3 linked regions of the Homo sapiens genome follow. The protein of the gene in region 1 purifies or fractionates together with the protein of each later gene. This does not show direct contact. Each region holds a gene or a part of one and is shown in the gene's direction. Other genes may lie near its edges.

The links.
Region 2: the proteins of KIAA0319L (region 1) and RPS6KA2 fractionate together in Homo sapiens (co-fractionation; one large-scale study listed by BioGRID). This does not show direct contact.
Region 3: the proteins of KIAA0319L (region 1) and PACC1 purify together in Homo sapiens (co-immunoprecipitation; one large-scale study listed by IntAct). This does not show direct contact.

Annotation. Positions count from the first base shown.
Region 1 is NC_000001.11:35,438,886-35,442,611, reverse strand, and holds part of KIAA0319L (dyslexia-associated protein KIAA0319-like protein), read left to right. Parts: intron 1-275; coding exon 276-366; intron 367-1,473; coding exon 1,474-1,565; intron 1,566-3,726.
Region 2 is NC_000006.12:166,431,752-166,435,251, reverse strand, and holds part of RPS6KA2 (ribosomal protein S6 kinase alpha-2), read left to right. Parts: intron 1-2,761; coding exon 2,762-2,851; intron 2,852-3,500. UniProt on the Homo sapiens protein: Serine/threonine-protein kinase that acts downstream of ERK (MAPK1/ERK2 and MAPK3/ERK1) signaling and mediates mitogenic and stress-induced activation of transcription factors, regulates translation, and mediates cellular proliferation, survival, and differentiation.
Region 3 is NC_000001.11:212,376,681-212,380,406, reverse strand, and holds part of PACC1 (proton-activated chloride channel), read left to right. Parts: intron 1-369; coding exon 370-512; intron 513-2,700; coding exon 2,701-2,845; intron 2,846-3,522; exon of another isoform or gene 3,523-3,613; intron 3,614-3,726. UniProt on the Homo sapiens protein: Chloride channel gated by pH that facilitates the entry of chloride ions into cells upon exposure to extracellular acidic pH. Involved in acidosis-induced cell death by mediating chloride influx and subsequent cell swelling.

The DNA of each region.
Region 1 (3,726 bases):
CCTAATGGAAGCCCTCGTTTCCCTCTTAAAGCTCTTTTCAGCCTGCACCACTGCTGCAGGGTCTCAGGGCTTGCCAGGAGCAGGGACTGGAAAGCAGGGACATTTCAAAAGGTTTAAAGCTTCAGCTGCCCTTAACTCCAAGGTCTTACCTTCCTGGGGAGCCTGAGGCATTCTTGTCTCCAGAGTGAAGCCACACCTGCCCAAGCTGGGAGCAGCCCAGACCTCCCTCCCAGCCTCTCCCTCCACAGCCCTCACCATTTTGATTTTCTTGGCAGAGTGGAGCGTGTTATATGTTATCATTGCTACCTTTGTCATTGTTGTTGCCTTGGGAATCCTGTCTTGGACTGTGATCTGTTGTTGTAAGAGGTAAGATGGATTTTCCTTTGAAATTCATTCGGGCTTCTTGTCATACATTCGTTCCTCAGAGAGGTATTTGGCACCTTCCACGTGGAAGGACTGGGCTGGGTCCTTAGTCAGCATTAGAGAGTTCTGACCCACCTAAGGCATGCACGGGCAGCTTTGCTCACCCTGAGACTCTCCTGAGGGCAGAGGCACACTCCTTCAGTGAGTGGCAGCCACTGCAGTGATTTGGAACCTGGGAAACATGGCTGGGCGGGAGCAGGGCAAGGTGGGGGAGTGAGCGTGAGGGCCAGGGGTACAGACCCGGATCACATCTGTAAGGTGTGTTTTCTTTAATGCACCACACTGTAGCCTCACCAGCATAGCCCGCGAGTTTTTAATTCTGCCTTCTTTCTAGTTGGGATTCATGAGTGTGCATGTTTCCACACATGCACTTTAGGCTAGCCAGGCTCAGGCGTCCTGTGTTTTTTCATTTGAGTCTTCCTATTGAGTCTTCTAAGATGGAATGGTTACATTTATTTTATGTTTTCATTATTAATAATATTATTTCTGTGTATACTGTGTGCCATAATATTTTTATAGGTAATATCATTTTTAAGACACATAACCTTTTCCCATTTTACAGATAAAAAAACTTAGGCTCAGGAAAGGTACATCACTGTCTGAGGACCAGTTGATAGTGACAGAGCTGAGATTCAACTTTCAGTATAACCTCTTATAAAACTTAGAACTAAAGGAATTTTTAAAAATTCCCACCAGTCTAAGACAACCACCATTACCAACTTTGTTAGTGTAATGCCTGTCTCCTCCCACACCCTTCAAGCAGAGGATTTTGTTTTCTTTACGTTTTTAACCAATCTGTCCTTCATTGCCCCTGTGGGATGGTGAGTCCGTGCCAAGGTGGTCATAGCTCCCTTGCCCTTCTCCAGAATTGCTGAGGAACATTTGAGGAACAAATCACAGTTGCCACCTTTCCTGGCTGAGAAGTGAGGAGAGGACACCCCTCTCAGTAGGTGCCCCACCAAAATAGGGCCCTGCATGCACATCTGGCTCTCATCCTCATCCTCCCAGAGAACCTCTTTCCTGAGCAGGGGTGGGGGTTGTGTTTTTTAGGCAAAAAGGAAAACCCAAGAGGAAAAGCAAGTACAAGATCCTGGATGCCACGGATCAGGAAAGCCTGGAGCTGAAGCCAACCTCCCGAGCAGGTAGGGGCCCTGGGTGCCAGAGCTTCTAGGTCTGTGCACTCTCTCTGTGGAAGGCTGCTGTCACTAGCCCCTCCTGAGTGTGTCACTAACAGCCCACTGTGCTTGCAAAGCATTTTGTTCCCTTTTGCCTGATGAAGACTGAGGGTCAGATTTGCCCTGAGCTGCACTGGACAAAATGCCTCCAGGACCCACTTCGCGTGCTACTTCCGCTTGGCGGGGGTGCTGGGCCTGTTGTTTTCCTTTGCCTGGGCATTCTCCTCATGTTTCCCACCTGGAGTTCCGCTTTTCCAACTGCCCCAGGTAGTCAGGGTCAGGGACCTTGGACTTGTCTCTTACTGCTGACCAGTCTGTGCTTTATGGGCAGAGATGAGACCCAGGCCCGTGTCTGCCAGCTGACCACCTTTCAGCCAGCCTTGTTCTCCTGTCTTCCTATCTTTATCATTTGGCAAGTCCTCAGCTTCTGTCAGTGTCTTAGGGCAGATAGGAGGGCATTTCCTTGCACAAACAGTAAGATGACTTTGAGTGATGGCACTGGGAGATCAGGGCAGGTAGTAGGCCTTCCTTCCTCCGCTGGGCTGGGTCACCTGGCGAGGGTTTCACTCATCATGGATGCCATGGGACAGGTATCATTGGTTTATGAGAGCTAGACTCTATAAAGCGATTCCTAAACACTCTGCAAGTAGAACTATTTTTATATAAAGCATTTATTAAACACTTTTCATGCTTAAAGCTTTGTGTTAGGGAGAGGCTATGGGGGTATAGGGAGTCATCAGACACAGGCTGTGCTCTCAGTCTAGTGAGGGAGAAAAGACACACAGTAGCAGAAGAGAACAGGCTCACAGCAGTCTGGACTCTGCACCAAGCAGCTCGATCCACCAACACTGTCAAGGTGGAGACTGGAGGTGGTGGGGCTTGAAATGAGCCCAGGAAACCAGAGCAGTGAGGGCGGGCGGGGCATTTCACCCAGGAATATTGAGAATGAGGGCCTGGAGGTGAAATGTGCAAAACCCACCCCTCACACTGCAGCCAAGGTTTTTATCATGTTACTCTGATCATGTTTTTCACCCCCTGACATTCTTCAATGACTTACTATTTCTAGCACAAAAAGCTAGAACTTTTGGTCTGGTAGATGTGGCCTTTGTGAGCTTACATCAGTTTGCTTTTCTGGAATCTTTCTCTTTGCTGATCTCCCTCTTTTCTAAACAAGTTCTTCTGGTTCATCCAGTAATCTCTTTCTTTTTTAAAAATGTGGCGACAAGGTCTTGCTCTGTCACCCAGGCTGGAGTGCAGTGGTATAGTCATAGCTCACTGCAACCTCCAGCTCCTGAGCTCAAGTGGTCCTCCTGCTTCAGCCTCCCAAAGCAGCTGGGACTACAGGCATGCACCACCATACCCAGCCCTAGAAAGCTCTTTCTTATCCCTCCCTTAACCTCCTCAAGTTGTGCTCACCTTTCTCTCACATGCCTGGGTCGGCATTTCTCTCGCTGTCTCATGATTAGTTATGTTTGCCTGTCTCCCCACCCATCAGTGAAATCCCTGAGGGCAGGGGCTGTCTCATTCATCTGTGGATATGGAGCGGGACCACTATGTGCCAGGCCCTGTGCCAGACACTGCTTATATTGTGGTGAATCAAACGGACAGACTTCACTCTTGTGTAGCTTATGTCAGACAGACATTAAGCAAACTCACAAATACATAAAATATGCTCATAAAAGGCCTTTATGAAGAAAAACACTTAAGCTGAGACCTGGATAAGTGGGAGCTAGCCAGATAAAGCTGCAGGAAATAGCATTCCAGGCAAAGGAACAAAACTGGTGCAGACCCAGCTGCTAGAAGGAGCAGAGAGCATTTGAGGAGGTAGAAGAAGGTGACATGATGGACAGGTTCACCTTCCCACAGAGTAAGGGGTGAGTGACCCAAGGCTCAATGGATGAGCAGGGTCCCTGCTGAGGACTTCTCTTGAGTACAATGGGGAGCCACTGATAGCTTTTTAAGGGGATGAATGGTGGGATTTGGTTTACATTTATTATTATTTGAGACAGAGTCTCACTCTTATCACCCAGGCAGGAGTGCAGTGGTGCGATCAAGGCCCACTGCAGTCTTGACCTCCTGGGCTCAGGTGATCCTTCCACCTCAGCTTCCTAAGTAGCTGGGACCACAG
Region 2 (3,500 bases), on another chromosome or scaffold:
ATACTTATCATTGTAAGTCAGAATTTTTCTGAAGACTCACAACAAAAGAACACATAGAAATAAAATAGATACTAGGGTTGAGAGGGCAGCCATCTGTAGTCCCAGATTCTTTAAAATAATAGTCACGTTGTCCTGCAATTTCAGCTTACAAAATAGTAAGCTGAAATTTTGGAATTCTTTATTTCATATTTTGAATAGACAATATATTCTTGTGGTTCAAAATTTTTAAAAATTCATGTGGATACAGCAAAGTTTCCCTCCCACCCATGGGCCCCCAGGCACCCTGTTCCCCTCCTCACAGGAAGGCAAGGCAATTAAATGTTTCCTCCTTCCTTCCAGGGTTATTTTATGCACCCACAAGGAAATGGATGCGTCTATCTGCATTCTTCTCTCCATTTTTAAAACAAGGGATGGCGTAGGATGCACCTGCTCGCGTCGGCCTTTTTTACTCCTTGTATCTTGAAGATGGTCCGTGGCGGTGGAGAAAAAGCTCCCACTTTCTTGTTTACTCTGCATCTTGTTCCACTGTGAGAGTGATAAAACAGATTCATGCTAAGAACACATCCCTTTATCATGAAATCATATTTGCGAAAAAATCTTCTACTGAATTCTTTTATAAATTTATAAATGTATTTTAACCTTCTCTAATTGCAAAGACAGGATCCCGGCCCCGATAGACGGGATGCCCACAGGCAGACAGGAGCAGAGGAGTTTGGGTACCTGACAGCCAGCTTCCCTACAAGCAGTGCAGGACCAGCCTCCCAGGACCTGCTTAGGCTGTGGCATGTTAGGGAAAGTCCCCCACCCCTCCTTGAATGATCGTTTTAAAAGTCTCTACTTGAGAATGATGCATTTATGTTGGCAATAGAATTAGTCCTAGTGTCCTAGCTAAAACTTCAGTAGAATTAAATGCAGCAGAAGGAGAGAAATTCTATGTCCAGAAAGGGACCCTAACTCTTCTGCCTGTTTACAACGCAGGCTATTAGGACTCACAGATCATGGGCCACTGATGCAGTCACAGCTGAATGGTGGCCGTGGCAGAGCATCCTTTGAAACTATAATGGGGTGAGAACTGGCACTATGGTGAGTTTTTATAACGGTGACGGGGAGTGGACGAAGGGTGACCAGGGGACAGATTATGAGCAGTGAGTCAAATGCTACCCAAGCGTTTGGTTCTCTAAAGTAAAGAAATAGCCAGGTGTAGTTGCTCATGCCTGTAATCTCAGCACTTTGGGAGGCTGAGGCAGGAGGATCACTTGAAGCCAGGAGTTAGAGACCAGCCTGGGCAACACAGCAAGACCCCATCATCTCTACAAAGAATTTAAAAATTAGCTGAGTAGGGTGGCACACACCTCTGTAGTCCTAGTTATTCTGGAGGCTGAGGCAGGAGGATCACTTGAGCCCAGGGGTTTGATGTTGCAGTGAACTATGCTTGTACCACTGTATTCCAACCTAGGCAACAGAGTGAGACCCTGTCTCCAAAAAAAATTAACGAAATAGAGTTTTATGCAAAGCTCTGCCTAGAGACTTTGACATGATAGAAGTTAAAAGCAAGTCACCCTCATATTCTAGTAGTAAAATGACTGCACGGTCTCCAAATAGAGACTATTTTAAAATTAGGTTGAACTAATGTGAGAATAGTACAAATCATGGTTAGGAAGGTGTTTCCAATCGCTTTTCTTCTGCTCTGAGTGTTGTTTGCAAAATACATGTTGCATGTTGCCAATTTCCCATGAGTGTGGTGCCCTCCTCCCACTGGTCCCGTCCCCACAGCAGGGGCGGCAAGGGCGGGACTTAGGCACCTCCAGAGGGATTAGCCACCAGGGACCAACAGCGACTTCCTGTTTCCAAGGTAGGCTTAAATCCCAACACCCTGTCCTCAGAAACCATATGTCTCCATGGGGTTGAAGCAACTTTATCTGTTATCCTAAGACATCGGATACAGATGCTGGGCGGGGGAGGGGAGCTTGCATATGTCTAAACAGCAAGGCAGGTCTGGCCTGCGCACCATCCCCAGCATCTCTTGGTGAGAGCCATGCGCCTCACCTCATTTTGTGGCTGGTTTGTAATTCCCGGAACAAGGCAGAAGGTGCACAGTGGCTGGAGGCTTGTTGTGGATGGTGCCCACTGCGAGGGTGGGACACAGTCTGTTATTTGGTGGCACTTGCATGAGCTCCCTACACGTGTCTCCACCCAACCTTATAACACCTTAAAATTCATGTCTGAAGTCTTGTACTCCTTTTTTTTTTTTTTTTTTGAGACAGAGTCTCGCTCTGTCACCCAGGCTGGAGTGCAGTGGCATTATCTCAGCTCCCTGCAACCTCTGCCTCCCAGGTTCAAGTGATTCTCATGCCTCAGCCTCCTGAGTAGCTGGGATTACAGGCACACACCACCATGTCTGGCTAATATTTGTATTTTTAGTAGAGACCAGGTTTTGTCATGTTAGCCAAGCTGGCTGGTCTTAAACTCCTGACCTCAAGCCACCTGCCCACCCCGGCCTCCCAAAGTGCTGGGATTACAGGCATGAGCCACCTTGCCCAGCCTGTACTCCTCTTTGTAGATGTAAATCTTACACTAGTTGTCAAAGAAAGGACTTGCCATGAATCTCCAGACAATCTCAGGTTATCTCTTGGTCGGGTGTGAGATTGTAGTGATTGGGCCACCTGGGGCCAGACTTTATCCAAACTCAATGGTCCACCAGCAGATACCACCCGAAAGCCTAAAGTAGACCCCTCACTGCCATGTGCTGTGTTTGTTCCAGATCATTGATAAGAGCAAGAGAGACCCCTCGGAAGAGATTGAGATCCTCCTGCGGTACGGCCAGCACCCGAACATCATCACCCTCAAGGATGTGAGTGGTCCCCGTGCAACAGCATCTCCACTTCCTTCTGTTTCTTCAACTGACACAAAACTCCCATTCACTCAGAGCAAGCTTTCTCACATCTCATGCCTGTCTCAGCTGGTTTCCACCACCCACATATCTCAGTCACTTGGAGCTGACTTGCTGGACTGTGTACTCAAGTCTTTTTGACAGCCACCGCCCCAGTCATGGAGGGAGCAAGTAAAACAGAGGAAGAGAGAGCTTGTGTGAATTACAGTCCACAGGCGGAGTCTCTCATAGAGGCCCATGGGGGTGCAGGGTTTGGGATCCGGGAGCACAGACAGGAGACAATTTTCCTCCTCACGCTCCAACTCCAAACTGATTCTAGCATTATGAACCTAGAGTCACAGGATATTGGGCCTACCTCAGTTTCCCTCATGCATAGTGACTGCTGCGTGCAAACGGTCTTAACATGCAAGCTTGGCATAAGAATAGCCCGAACAGGCCGGGTGCGGTGGCTCACACCTGTAATCCCAGCACTTTGGGAGGCGTAGGCAGGCAGATCACTTGAGGTCTCCTGAAGGCAGATCACTTTGAGACCAGCCTGGTCAACATGGTGAAACCCCATCTCTACTAAAAATACAAAATTAGCCGGGTGTGGTGGCGCACACCTGTAATC
Region 3 (3,726 bases), about 180 Mb from region 1:
AAAGTTTCCATAGGACAAATGACATTGGAAACAAAGTTAAAAGAAAAATGACAGACTGGAAGAAAAGATTGGCACACATAACAGATGAAAGTGATCATCCTTGCTAAATTAAGAGCTTCCATAACTCAAAGAACCAATGAGAAAAGTGGACAGAGGATGAGCTGCATTCAGCTCTGGTTGGGCATCATATGGGGAAAACTCCCCAGGAATGAGCATGAGTCCCAGCCCAGTCCTGTTGTTGGCTAGTGGTCCCTTTGGAGACCACTGGGCAAGGAGCTATGGGCTTTCCAGTCAGTACTTCTGCCCTCAGACCCAGAGGCCTCTGTGTACTCTCCCAGGACTGAGACTCTGTCCTTTTTCTCTCTGCAGAAATCTGCCCTGATTGTCCAGGGGCCCCGGGAAGTGAAAAAGCGGGAGCTGGTCTTCCTCCAGTTCCGCCTGAACAAGAGTAGTGAGGACTTCAGCGCCATTGATTACCTCCTCTTCTCTTCTTTCCAGGAGTTCCTGCAAAGGTGGGCTTTTAGAGTTCACAGTGGGCTTACTGTCTACTTTTTATCTTATTCCAGCTGTGTATGTCCCAAGGCTAGAGACGGAGGGGTGAGGGCAGGGAAGGGAAGGGGCATTCTCAGATGACCCACTGGCCCAGGAAGGGACCTCATGAGCTTGGCCGGTCCACTCAACATCTTATCACAAAGTTAAGCAAATCTGGTGTGGAGGAGCATGCTGGCTCTCCATGCACATAGTGCTGGCTGGTTCTAGAGAGATCATTTGGTCTCACCATTGCCTGGGGCTGCTGAGGAGTAGGGGAAGTTGCCTTTGATTTGTAAGTCCCTTTGAGAGCAAGTTCTTGTGTGGTTCCTTGGTTTCCCCCACAGTGTGCACAGGAACCACATCTTGCCCTTAGTGCGGGCTTAATGTATGTTTGCCTGAAATACAGTTGGTCCTTGAACAACTTGGGGTTTGGGGTTACCAAACTTAACCACTCCTGCCTATGCAGCCAAAAATTTGTGTATAACTTTTGACCCCCAAAACTACTAACAGCCTACTGTTGACAGAAGCCTTACCAATAACATAAACAACACATATTGCGTGGTTATATATATCATAGACTGTATTCTTACGATAAAGTAAACTAGAGAAAAAAAATGTTATTAAGAAAATCATGGCCAGGTGTGGTGGCTCACACCTGTAATCCTACCACTTTGGGAGGCCAAGGTGGGCGGATCACGAGGTCAGGAGATCGAGACCATCCTGGCTAACATGGTGAAACCCCATCTCTACTAAAAATACAAAAAATTAGCCAGGCGTGGTAGCGGGCACCTGTAGTCCCAGCTACTCAAGAGGTTGAGGCAGGAGAACCGATTGAACCCAGGAGGCAGAGTTTGCAGTGAGCTGAGATTGCGCCACTGCACTCCAGCCTGGGCAACAGAGCGAGACTCCAAAAAAAAAAAAAAGGAAATCATAAGGAAGAGAAAATATACTTACTATTCATTCAGTGGAAGTGATCATTGTAAAGGCCTTCATCCTCATCGCCTTCATGTTGAGTAGGCTGAGGAGGAGGTTTGGTCTTGCTGTCTCAGGAGTGGCAGAGGCAAAAGAAAATCCGCACGTGAGTGGACCCAGCCAGTTCAAACCTGTGTTGTTCAAGGGTCTACTGCATCTCTGGTATGAGGATATAAGCTCTGCCACCTCTCTTAGTCTTCGATTTACAGTGATGAATGTCCCCTGACCATCAGAAAGTTCTTGTCTGCTCCACACACACTGCTTTGGGGTCACACCGTGGAGCCTAGAGGGCAGGAGAATTTTCTTCATGTGCCTGAGTTGAGAGGGACTCAGTTCCTACCAGGTCCTGCTGAGCCCAGAGGCTCCATTCAGAGCAAGCAGGGAGGCAGCTACAGGGGCAGGGAGGCTGCTCCCCAGCTGGACATGCAGCGAGCTGCCTCCATTCCACACCACCACTGCTTTGTTCTTCCACCCCAGAGCTCGGAGCCTCTGCCTTAGCATTTTCCACCCTTTCTGCCACCTAGAATTCCCTCTCCCTTCCCTGCTTCAAGCTGGCCATCTTGCCTTCCTCCTGGAAGACTTTCCCCGGGATCCCACCCCCACTCCACGCTCCTTTCGTGAGCTTCCTCGGTATGCTGCTGCAGTTTTTACTTGTTTTTATGTTCGCTTTGATTTTGCTGCATCTGCACCGTCTTGGGGCTGATGCTGTAGGTGACCCATCTGGCTGAGACCTCCCCAAGGAACCCTCTTCCCCTCTTTGGGCCTTCCATGGGAGCTGACAGGCTGGTGAGGGCTTCCTCAGGCTCTGCTGAAGTCCAGAGTTCTCTGAGGAGCTGTGAGCGCCATGTTCTGGGGAGCTTCTGCCAACTTCATTGCCGACAGCTTTGGTAGCCATCGATAGGAATGATGGGAGGAGGGAGGAAGATTTCTCCCACTGGGAGCTTCAAGGATCATGTTCCTGCCTTGAGGCCAGTGACTACCCCTCCATTTGGAAACCAAATGGAGAGAAAAGAGGGATGGGCCTTGCTTTTGCTGGTGACTGACAGCCCTGTTGAGGCAATCACAATTTGGAGAGGAGGCAGGGAGTGGGCAGCATCCTGGTTGTGCCAGCAAAGAAACCAGCTTGCAGTGGGGGCTTCGACTCCTGCTGCCAGACCTGCATTGACCTGGATCTTCCTTCTCCTTCCTTCCTCCAAGCCCAAACAGGGTAGGCTTCATGCAGGCCTGTGAGAGTGCCTATTCCAGCTGGAAGTTCTCTGGGGGCTTCCGCACCTGGGTCAAGATGTCACTGGTAAAGACCAAGGAGGAGGATGGGCGGGAAGCAGTGGAGTTCCGGCAGGAGGTAGGTGGCTCTGGGTTTGCTTGAAACTGCTGGTGACTTTTCCACATTCGAGTCTGAGGTGGAGGGAAGCTTTGCAGAGAAGGCTCCTTTGAGCAGGGCCTTAAGGGTGAGTAGGCCTTGGTCAGGATGAGAAGGGACTCCCATGGAGGGCTTCATATGCTATGCCAGGGAGTCTGTGTGTGCTTCTGCAGGCAGCGCACATACCGGCCAGTCCTCACGGAATGCATGTGTGGGGCAGAGATCATTGTGGCTTGCAGAGAGGTCAGTAACTCGCCCAGCTGTGTCTGATGTCTTGCATCTAGCAGCACTTTGAGGGGCTGGCAGTGGCCTAGCAGATTGATTATTTGCAGGGAAGAGAGACTAGACACAGTGGTCCCAAGTGTGCATGTTGATCCTTTTCCTAAGGTCCTCTTCAGCTCTCACAGGTGTCACAGCGAGAGATGCCAGGTGTATCTCCTGGCTGCTAGGCCAGTGGGCTGAAAGCTTTTTGATCAGATTTCCCATTAGTAAAAACTTTTTGATCATATACTCCATATACATATAACTCTGCAGGTGATATAACATACTATTATTGTCTTAGTGTTATATACACTTTAAACATTCAAAAATAGAAATGTTAAAAGGATGAGATAAAAATAAATAGTAAAAAAAGCTAGTCTTTTCTTCTTGTATCCCAGTGGCTCGGGATGCTCATCTGGAGCAGAAGGACACACTCCAGTCAACTAGGCCATCACTGGCCAGAAGTTAGGCCGGAGAAGACTGTCTTGGGTTAGTCTTAAACAGGGCCCTGTCATGAGCCCTAGCTCCTCAGACTAGTCCAGGCTGGTTACTTGGAAGAGGCTCAAAGCCAGTTTTCTTCAAGGAAGCAAGGCTATTTTTCC